Regions from separate parts of the Homo sapiens genome. Here region 2 is linked to region 1. A link means that fine-mapping ties the variant in region 1 to the expression of a gene that starts in the linked region. Tissue or cell type: whole blood. Region 1 holds a variant in brackets; the other region holds the start of a gene. Each region is shown on its reference strand, or each on the opposite one.

Region 1 (4,390 bases):
ACAGCCTCGGCAAAGTTGTAGCCTTGGTTGAAGCCGCTGTGGTAAGCACGGGGGAAGGTGATGACAAACTCTCCTGCACACTGGTTTGTGCGGACAACCTGAAGAACACAAAAGGCCATGGCTGTTGAGATAGAGATTTTCCTGTATACAGACCTGACTTAAGTGCAAGGTAATTAAGGAGACAAAGAAAAGCCTCAGGGAACACAGTCTGACAACAGAATCCCAGACTCTCCAACTCTGAAAGGAAGGACCACTGGTCTCTGCTCTCAAGGTTTTGATGTGTGTTGAGATGATAGGAAGATTTGAGATTAAAAAATATATCTGTCAAAATATTCCAACTTCCTTAGTAATTTTTGCAAAAATTATAAATATCACTTTTAATCAAGCTGGACAAGCTTTTTTAGTTATTTACTTTCATCAGTTATATATGCAGTTTGTAGAGTCAAATGGCTCTATAAAGATCTGTTATAAAATCAGCCAGCCTTGCCATTCTCCCTTCCCCACAGCCAATCACTTCCACCTCTTCTGATTATTTTGGCGTTGATTATAACTACCTTAAATAACATGCTTCTAGACTATGTTAAAAACAGCCTCCTGTTTCTCAATTTGCTCAGTTTTTTATGCATATATCCCTAATTTTCTGACCAATATTTAAATCTCTTTTCCTATCAATTTTCATCTTTCTGTAGCAGTCTCATGCAACCTTCTGATCTGTCCCAATCTGGACCAGCTGTCCTCCCTGGATCATCACTCTCTTGTGACAGATCTCCTATTTCCTAGATCCCACGTCTTCCTCTTTCTTGGTTTATTCCTTTGCTATGCTTAAGAACATCCTCCAACAGTTTCCTGAGAAATGGTGTGAAGAACCTACTTTTCTTTTTTTAAAGAAAGTCTCTATTCTTACTCTCACACTTGACTGTATATAGAATTCTAAGATGAAAATCCTTTTTTTTTTTTTTTGAGACGGAGTCTCGCTCTGCCGCCCAGGCTGGAGTGCAGTGGCACGATCTCGGCTCACTGCAAGGTCCGCCTCCCGGGTTCACGCCATTCTCCTGCCTCAGCCTCTCCGAATAGCTGGGACTACAGACGCCTGCCACCACGCCCGGCTAATTTTTTGTATTTTTAGTAGAGATGGGGTTTCACCGTGGTCTCGATCTCCTGACCTCGTGATCCGCCCGCCTCGGCCTCCCAAAGTGCTGGGATTACAAGTGTGAGCCACCGCGCCCGGCAAAAATCCTTTTTTTAAAAACTCCCATAGTTGTTGACTCAGAAAATAATTTTAAAGGCACACTGCTCTGATCTTCTAGTGTTACTGTTGAAAAGTTCGAAGCCATTCTGATTTCTAATGCTTGATAAGCATTTGAAACCTGTTTCTCTCTCTCTCGAGCTTATAGGATTCTTCTGGTCTCAGTGTTTGACATGGAAATTTACAGGATATATCTTGGTATGAATTTCTTTTCACTCATGTACTGGGTAGGCCCATTGACTCTGGAAAATCGGTTCTCCAGTTCAGGGAAATTTTCTTGAGTGATTTCATTAATGATTTCATCCTCTCAGTTTTCATCTATTTTCTTTTCATAACTCCTATTTGAATATTGAACCTCCTAGAAAAATTCCCTAATTTTTTCTACCCTTTTCCATCTTTTTACTCTACTTTTTGGGAGATTTCCTCAACTATTCATCTTTCAAAAGTGGAAAACATACACTTTTTACATTTTTCACTTTTGCTATCATAACTTTGTTTGCGGTATGCTATTTTTTTAAACAGTATTCTGGTCTTCATTCATTTTTACAGTATATGCCTTTCTTTTGAAGTTTATTTCTCCCTGCCTAGCCTCTGTATCTCCAAGTTGCTTCTGTTTTTTGGGGGATTTTTTAGGGTTTCCTCAGTTTTTTGTTTTTTTTTTTTGACGCAGAGTCTCACTTTGTCGCCCAGGCTACAGTGCCGTGGTGCAATTTCGGCTCACTGCAACCTC[G/C]GCCTCCCGGGTTCAAGTGATTCTCCTGCCTCAGCCTTCCAAGCAGCTGGGATTACAGGCACACGCCACTATGCCGTATTTTTAGTAGAGACGGGGTTTTGTCATGTTGGCCAGGCTGGTCTCAAACTCCTGACCTCAGGTGATCCACCCACCTTGGCTGGGATTACAGGCGTGAGCCACTGCACCGCACTGGCCTCTCAGTTGTTAATCTGTGGCTGCCTGCTTATATTTAAGAGGAAGAGATTAAAAAGCTAAATGGAAGCTCTGAGTACACAGATGAAGCTTGTCAACTGTGAGCTTCACTGTAGGGTGATCTAGCTAAGCCATTTAGTTTGGGAAACTCCAGGTCTTTCCTTGCAGGCCAGTCAGATTCCCCAAAGAAAATCCTTTTTTTTTTTTTTTTTTTTTTTTTGCCTGTAGGAAAAAAGGCCTGGCAGCCAGTGTTCTAACAGCCAAGTGGAGAATGATGGCTGGGAACCTCAGCATCCAGTATGATAAATCCTAATTACATTCCCTATAACTCCACCTTCAATTGTACCTAGGAGACCTTAAACCAGAGACTCTGTTTTAACCTCTTCAGAAATAAATCTTCAGTCTTTTACTAGAGTGACTAGACATTTCTAGCTGCCCAGCATGGGAGGGTATCTCACAGCTTTTTTTTTTGAGACGGTGTCTCGCTCTGTCGCCCAGGCTGGAGTGCAGTGGTGTGATCTCGGCTCATTGTAAGCTCCGCCTCACGGGTTCATGCCATTCTCCTGCCTCAGCCTCCCGAGTAGCTGGGACTACAGGCATCCGCCACCATGCCCGGCTAATTTTTTGTATTTTTGTTAGAGACGGGGTTTCACTGTGTTAGCCAGGATGGTCTCAATCTCCTGACCTCATGATCCACCCGCCTCGGCCTCCCAAAGTGCTGGGATTACAGGCGTGAGCCACTGCACCCGGCCCTCACAGCTTCTTATACAGACATGAACCAATCCTTATTTTCACCCCATCCATCTTTACCCCTAGAATGCCTGGTGCCACTGATAACAAATCTTTGGGGGATTCTGAGGTATGAATCGGGCTGGTTCTCAAGATGTCCTCAGTAGTGGCTTATGTTTCAGTTTTCTCATCTATCTGTTTTCTAGTTTCAAGAATTTTATCATTGTCTCCTCTCTCGTATTCTCCATCTCTGTAATTTTTTTCACGTTAAAAAATCCCTTTATGTAATTTTTGTGGAGTTTCAGTACAGAATGGAAGTAGCCATGTGTATGCTTAATCTGTCATCTTTACTGAGAAGTCTCACAAAGCTTTTTAAGATAAACATTCAATTTTGGTGAAGACACAGTGAAGTAGGTACAGTGCCGGTAAGGGAATAAATACATTCTACTCTCTGGAAAACAAATTTGCTAATGTATATCAAGAACCCTTCAACCCAATGATTCCTCTGCCAGGAGTCTAAATTAATTTGGGGAGAATTAACATCCTAACAATATCAAATCTTCCCATTCATAAACATATCTCCACATTTATTTGGACCATGCATCAGCTCCCACCTCCGTCATATTTTCTTCTCAAATCTATCTCTACTTAGAGGCAACATCAGCATTTCTTTCTTACCTGTATTACTGCACTGGCCTCAATTACTAACTGCCAGAACTATCTTCCAAAAATAGCAAATTTGACCATGTAATGCCTCAGCTGAGAGCCTCTCACTGGAATCCCCATGCCCACATGATTAAGCCACAGCTCTGACAGGTAAACTCTTACTCTTCTTTCAGGGATCACTGCTCCTACAAAACCTTTCCTGATAACCCCCGCTTCCTAAATGACCTAGTTTGTTGCTCTTTTGCAGCACCTTTAATGCTTTATTCCACTTATTTACTCCTCTGTCCAGCACTCAGCTATGCATACACAAACGCAGGCACTGGGTTATTTGCCTTCTGAGTGTTGACCAGAGAGGCCTTGCACAAAGAATGAGCTCTAGCAACATTCACTGAATGATCTAGTCCCAGGCTTAGTTTTATTTATTATTAATTAATTAGAAGGGGTCTTACTATGCCAGCCTTAATTTTATCGACAAGAAAACTAAGTCTCAGATAAGCCTCAGGTAGCAGAGCCAGGAGTAGAACTTGATGCTCATAACTCTGTCTCACCCTGCACCCTGATGCTGGCAATGTCACTTTACTATTTCCTATGTGGTTATTTAGAAAAGTTCTCCTCACATTCTGCAGCTGTTAAAAATGACAACTGTGAATAGCCAAAAAGTAAAAACAACTCAAAAGGTTCATCAACTGGTGTATATTACTGGGCCATCAAAGGAATAAAGTTCTGATACATGCTGCAATGTGGATGAACCCCAAAAACATGCTAAGTGAGAGAAGAAACAAATGACCACATATTATTCCATTTTTATGAACTGTCCAGAAAAGACA
Region 2 (4,390 bases), not on the chromosome of region 1:
GAGTAAGCAGGCCTCTGTGCAGGCTCCCCAAATCTTCTCTTCTAGAGCGTGATCTTCAGACATAGATATCCAAAAATGCTGTCAGCTCTTCCCTAGAGCTGTCCTTCTCCTGCTTATCTAAATCCTGTGGGCTTACTCTGGGTCAGGGAAGGCCATAATCCCCCCTCCCCAAACTAGCCACTGCCCCTTTAGTAACCCAGACAAAGGCTTGGTCTATTCATGCACACGGCTACCGGCAGCCTGAACCCCTCCCAGCTTCTCATGTGAAGGCTGCTATCCTCCAGGAGCACTTCCTTCACAAGGATTAAGGGCATCAACTCTGGGGACAAGTTGGCTAGGTTTGAATCCTGGCTCCCACACTTCCCAGCTACGTTCTCTGCAAGCCCCTTCATGACATAACTTCTTACCTCCCTCTCTTCCCTAGCTTGGGTCCCCTCTGCTCCTGCCACACTGGCCTCTGATGATGCCAAACTCATTCCCACCTCAGGCCTTGGATGCTCCCTGGGATTTTCTCCCCTGGGGTCTATGCATGGCTGGCAGTGCAGCCTCAGGGCAAAGCCTCCCTTCACCTTGCTGCTCTCCTGACTCTCTCTATTCCATTACTTTTAGTCTTCCTACAACAGCGTCTAAAAATAAGTTCTCTTATTATCTGATTGCCCCCACTAAACTTAAACTTCATGGAACAAACACCTTGTCAGCTCCATCATCCTGTATCCCTCCTAGGCCCAGCAAACAGGATTGTTATTATACGTGCAAACTGCTTAACTTCTCTGAACTTGTTATTTTCTTGGTTACAGTGAAGACAGTAACAGGACTTCCTTGTGAGATTACTGGGAGACTATAAGGCACTAGTTCATATGAAGGGCTGACAGCTGTGCCTGGCATGAAACAAGCCCTCCGTAAACAGTGGCCAAAATCATCATCACTGATGTGGCCAAATTCCCAAAGCCATGCTTTCTTCCTCTTATGTTGCTCATTGATATTGTGGGAAGAGAGAGTAGCAGAATGGGACATAAGCTGCCTGATATGGCACTGTCCGTATCAGGGCACCAGGGAGGCCCAGCGGGAGCCAGGCCCTTTCCTCCCAGGAAGTGTGACACCCTCCCATTCAACCGTACCTGGCCGGCGCCGCTTGCGCGCCAGGTGCGGCAGCAGGTCGTGGCGGGCCAGCACGCGCAGGAGTTGCCCCAGCAGCCGCAGGTTGCTCTCGTCGCACTGCCCGCGGCGCTCCAGCTCCAGCAGGAGCTCTAGGCCGCTGCGGGCCCGGGCTAAGCCTCCGGCGGCGCCAGGAGCCTCATCCAGCAGAAAGGCCAGGAGCTCCAGCTCGCACTCGGTCAGTTGCCCGCCCACCACCTCGAACATACGGTGAAGCGACAGCATCCCGTAGTAGTCCAGGCACTCATCCTCCTCCCAGCACGGGGCCGGGGTCGACCCGGATAGCGCCATTCCCGGGGGAGGGAGGCGGAACAAGCTCAGAACCCGGCCTAGAACCCACACAGCGGGGAGGGGGCAGTGGTCAGCGACGCGGAGGCCCGAACCCCACACCGCCAGCGCGTCTCCCCCGCCCAATCGCGCCGGGCAGGGCCGCTCCCGCACCCCCAACCGCCTCGGCCTCCCCCTCCCCCGGGAGGGAATGGTCCCGCCCGAGGTCCCCTAAGAACAGGTCGGGACGCCGGAGCCCGCTCGGCTTCTGCCCCCACCACCGTGCTACGTTCGGAGCTCGCCTCCGGACCTGACCAAACGATGCGGCCCAAACAAGCCTCGGGGCCCACCCCGGGGCTCCCTGCTGACTGCCCCTGACTCTGGGTAGGACTGCCCAGACGAGCCCCTTTTCTCCGTCCAGCGGTACCGTCTGATGAGTCCCCCGGCTCTACGCAAGTGGTACCTCCCGAAAGTGACCCTCTGCCCCCTACACAGAGGAGCGACCCAGGCAGCCCCTTTGCTCCACACAGGTGGTACCGTCCGAACCCGACCCCCTCGCCCTGCAAGGGCGGCCCCGCCCGCTCCCCAGAGCCCAGGTGGTCCTGTCTACCCGCCACCAGTCACCATTAGGCCTCTCTGGATCCTCACCAGATTCTGGCGTCCGATGACTCCTGGGCGACGGCCGCAGCCACTTGTTTTGGATCTTTCTGGCACCTTCTCTATTATTACGCCTGCGTCACCTCGCCCCTCCTCCTTCCCCCAACTCGCGCAGGTGCGACCGCCACGCCCCTTCGGCGCATGCGCAGAACGAGGCCTCCAAGCCCCGCCCTTCCTGGGCCGCTTGACCTGCCCCCAACCGAAGCATCTTGGTTCGCGAGTGCTGCGCTTGCGCAGAGCGAGAGCACGCCGCCTCTTGGGCTGTATCTGGTACCCGGTTCCAGGTCCCTACTTCCTGCCCGTGACTCAAGCCACCGGGGCCATGTAGCGCCACGTCACGAGTAGTTGTAACTACTCATCTCATAAACTACAGCCCCCTCCTGATCACGAGCTAGACGCCCACATCACCACTGCCCCTAGTTGCCCGTGGCAAAGTAACACAATCACTACTTTCCCGTCTCCCAGTAAACTCCCAGGCCTTATATGATCTGGTCCTGGGCACTCCTCCATTAGATTGTCCCTCACTTCTAGTGACAACCAGGGATCTACATCTCAACTGTGCTCTCTCGTGATCCCAAATGGAAATCCCGCCCCCCCACCACCACCCCCGCAGTCTATAAGTTCCTTCCCCTGATCAAAACCAGAATTCCCTCATCTCACGTTCAGGACGGATACCTCCTTCCAAGCGGCAACAGAACCCTCCATTCCGACTGTGTACATCTCGATGGCGTCCATCACGACCCCCATCACAGTCAGATGTCTCCACCCAGAGCCAAAACGGCCCCTCCGTAACCCCTTCCAATCTCTGCCCTCCAGGGTCGCCCAGATACCCGCTCCCTAACTTGCAACAACTAGAGAGGGTCTGTCAGGGAGTCTAGGCTGTGGTGTATGCGTGTCCCCTTACCGCGGGGCCTTGGGTGTGACGGTCGCCACGCCCCCCACTTAGGTGACTCAAGGTCAGGACCTGCATGTACTTGAGACAAGTCCCCTCCCTGGACCTCTTCCCACCCCCGCAATTAACTCCTCTTGGGAGTCGGGAGATCTGGGTCCTGCCTAGCACTGGCCCAGTACTGGCTCTGCCTGAGCTGTAGCAGTGAATTCAAAAGAATCGGCTGCGCGCGGTAGCTCACGTCTGTAATCCCAGCACTTTGAGAAGCCGAGGTGGGCGGATCACACGAGGCCAGGAGTTCGAGACCAGCCTGGCCAACATGATGAAACCCTGTCTGTTCTTAGCCGGATGTGGTGGCACGCGCCTGAAATCCCAACTACTTGGGAGGCTGAGACAAGAGAATCTCTTGAACCAGGGAGCAGTAAGCAGAGATAGTGCCACTGCACTCCAGCCTGGGCCACAGGGCGAGACTTTGTCTCAAGAAACAAACAAACGCCAGGTGCGGTGGCTCACGCCTGCATTCCCAGCACTTTGGGAGGCCGAGGCGGGCGGATCACCTGAGGTCGGGAGTTCGAGACCAGTCTGACCAACATGGAGAAACCCCATCTCTACTAAAAATACAAAATTAGCCGGGCGTGCTGACGCATGCCTGTAATCCCAGCTACTCGGGAGGCTGACGCAGGAGAATCGCTTGAACCCTGGAGGCGGAGGTTGCCGTGAGCCGAGATTGCGCCATTGCACTCCAGTCCGGGCAACAATAGCAAAACTCTGTCTCAAACAAACAAACAAGACCGGACGCGGTGGTTCACGCCTGTAATCCCAGCACTTTGGGAGGCCGAGACGGGTGGATCACCTGAGATCAGGAGTTCGAGAGCAGCCTGACCAATATGGCAAAACCCCGTCTCTACTAAAAAATACAAACATTAGCCGGGCGTGGTGGTGGACACCTGTAATCCCAACTACTCGGGAGGCTAAGGCAGGAGAATCGGTTGAACCCGGGAGGCGGAGGTTGCAGTGAGCCAAGATCGTGCCACTGCACTCCAGTCTGGGCGACAGAGTGAGACTCCGTCTCAAACAAACAAACAAACCCTCCAAGAAATCCCTTCCCCTCTCTGGGCCTCAGTTTCCCTACTTGTGAAACAAATGGATGGCAATGGTAAGCTACGGAAGCATAGTCCTGGGCTAAACTCACAAGGGGGCCTGGTAAGTGACTATCATTAAATCAAACGAAGAGTAGGGAGAATAGGAAAGCAATTTAACAAACTGTGAAGGATTCTGTCTTGCTAAGTGGGTTGTAGTGGGCGCCTACAGTGTATGAGCGCTGTGCATGTGTGATATCATCCAATCCCCTAAACAATCTTTGAGGTGGCTGTGACTCAAGCTCACTTCACACCAGTAAAACAGAGGCCCGGAGAGGAGAAT

What was found. PIP is the estimated chance that this variant, and not a neighbour inherited with it, causes the effect.
Region 2: it holds the start of DEDD2, and the variant in region 1 is the best candidate, but not a certain one, in a credible set for the expression of DEDD2 in whole blood (TOPMed, PIP 0.66).

What each region holds. Positions count from the first base shown.
Region 1 is chrX:53,201,876-53,206,265 of GRCh38, forward strand. KDM5C (lysine demethylase 5C) reads right to left here. Exons shown (of 26, transcript NM_004187.5): 13 at 1-98. Among named protein-coding and RNA genes, the nearest start is that of MIR6894, 5.1 kb to the left of the region's middle. The variant G/C (reference allele first, on the strand shown) is at 1,977.
Region 2 is chr19:42,215,562-42,219,951 of GRCh38, forward strand. It overlaps DEDD2 (death effector domain containing 2), which reads right to left and starts at 2,116. Exons shown (of 5, transcript NM_133328.4): 1 at 2,071-2,116; 2 at 1,119-1,484. The coding sequence starts at 1,446. RefSeq lists silencers at 1,247-1,452, 1,534-1,593, 1,604-1,703 and enhancers at 2,475-3,351, 3,352-4,227.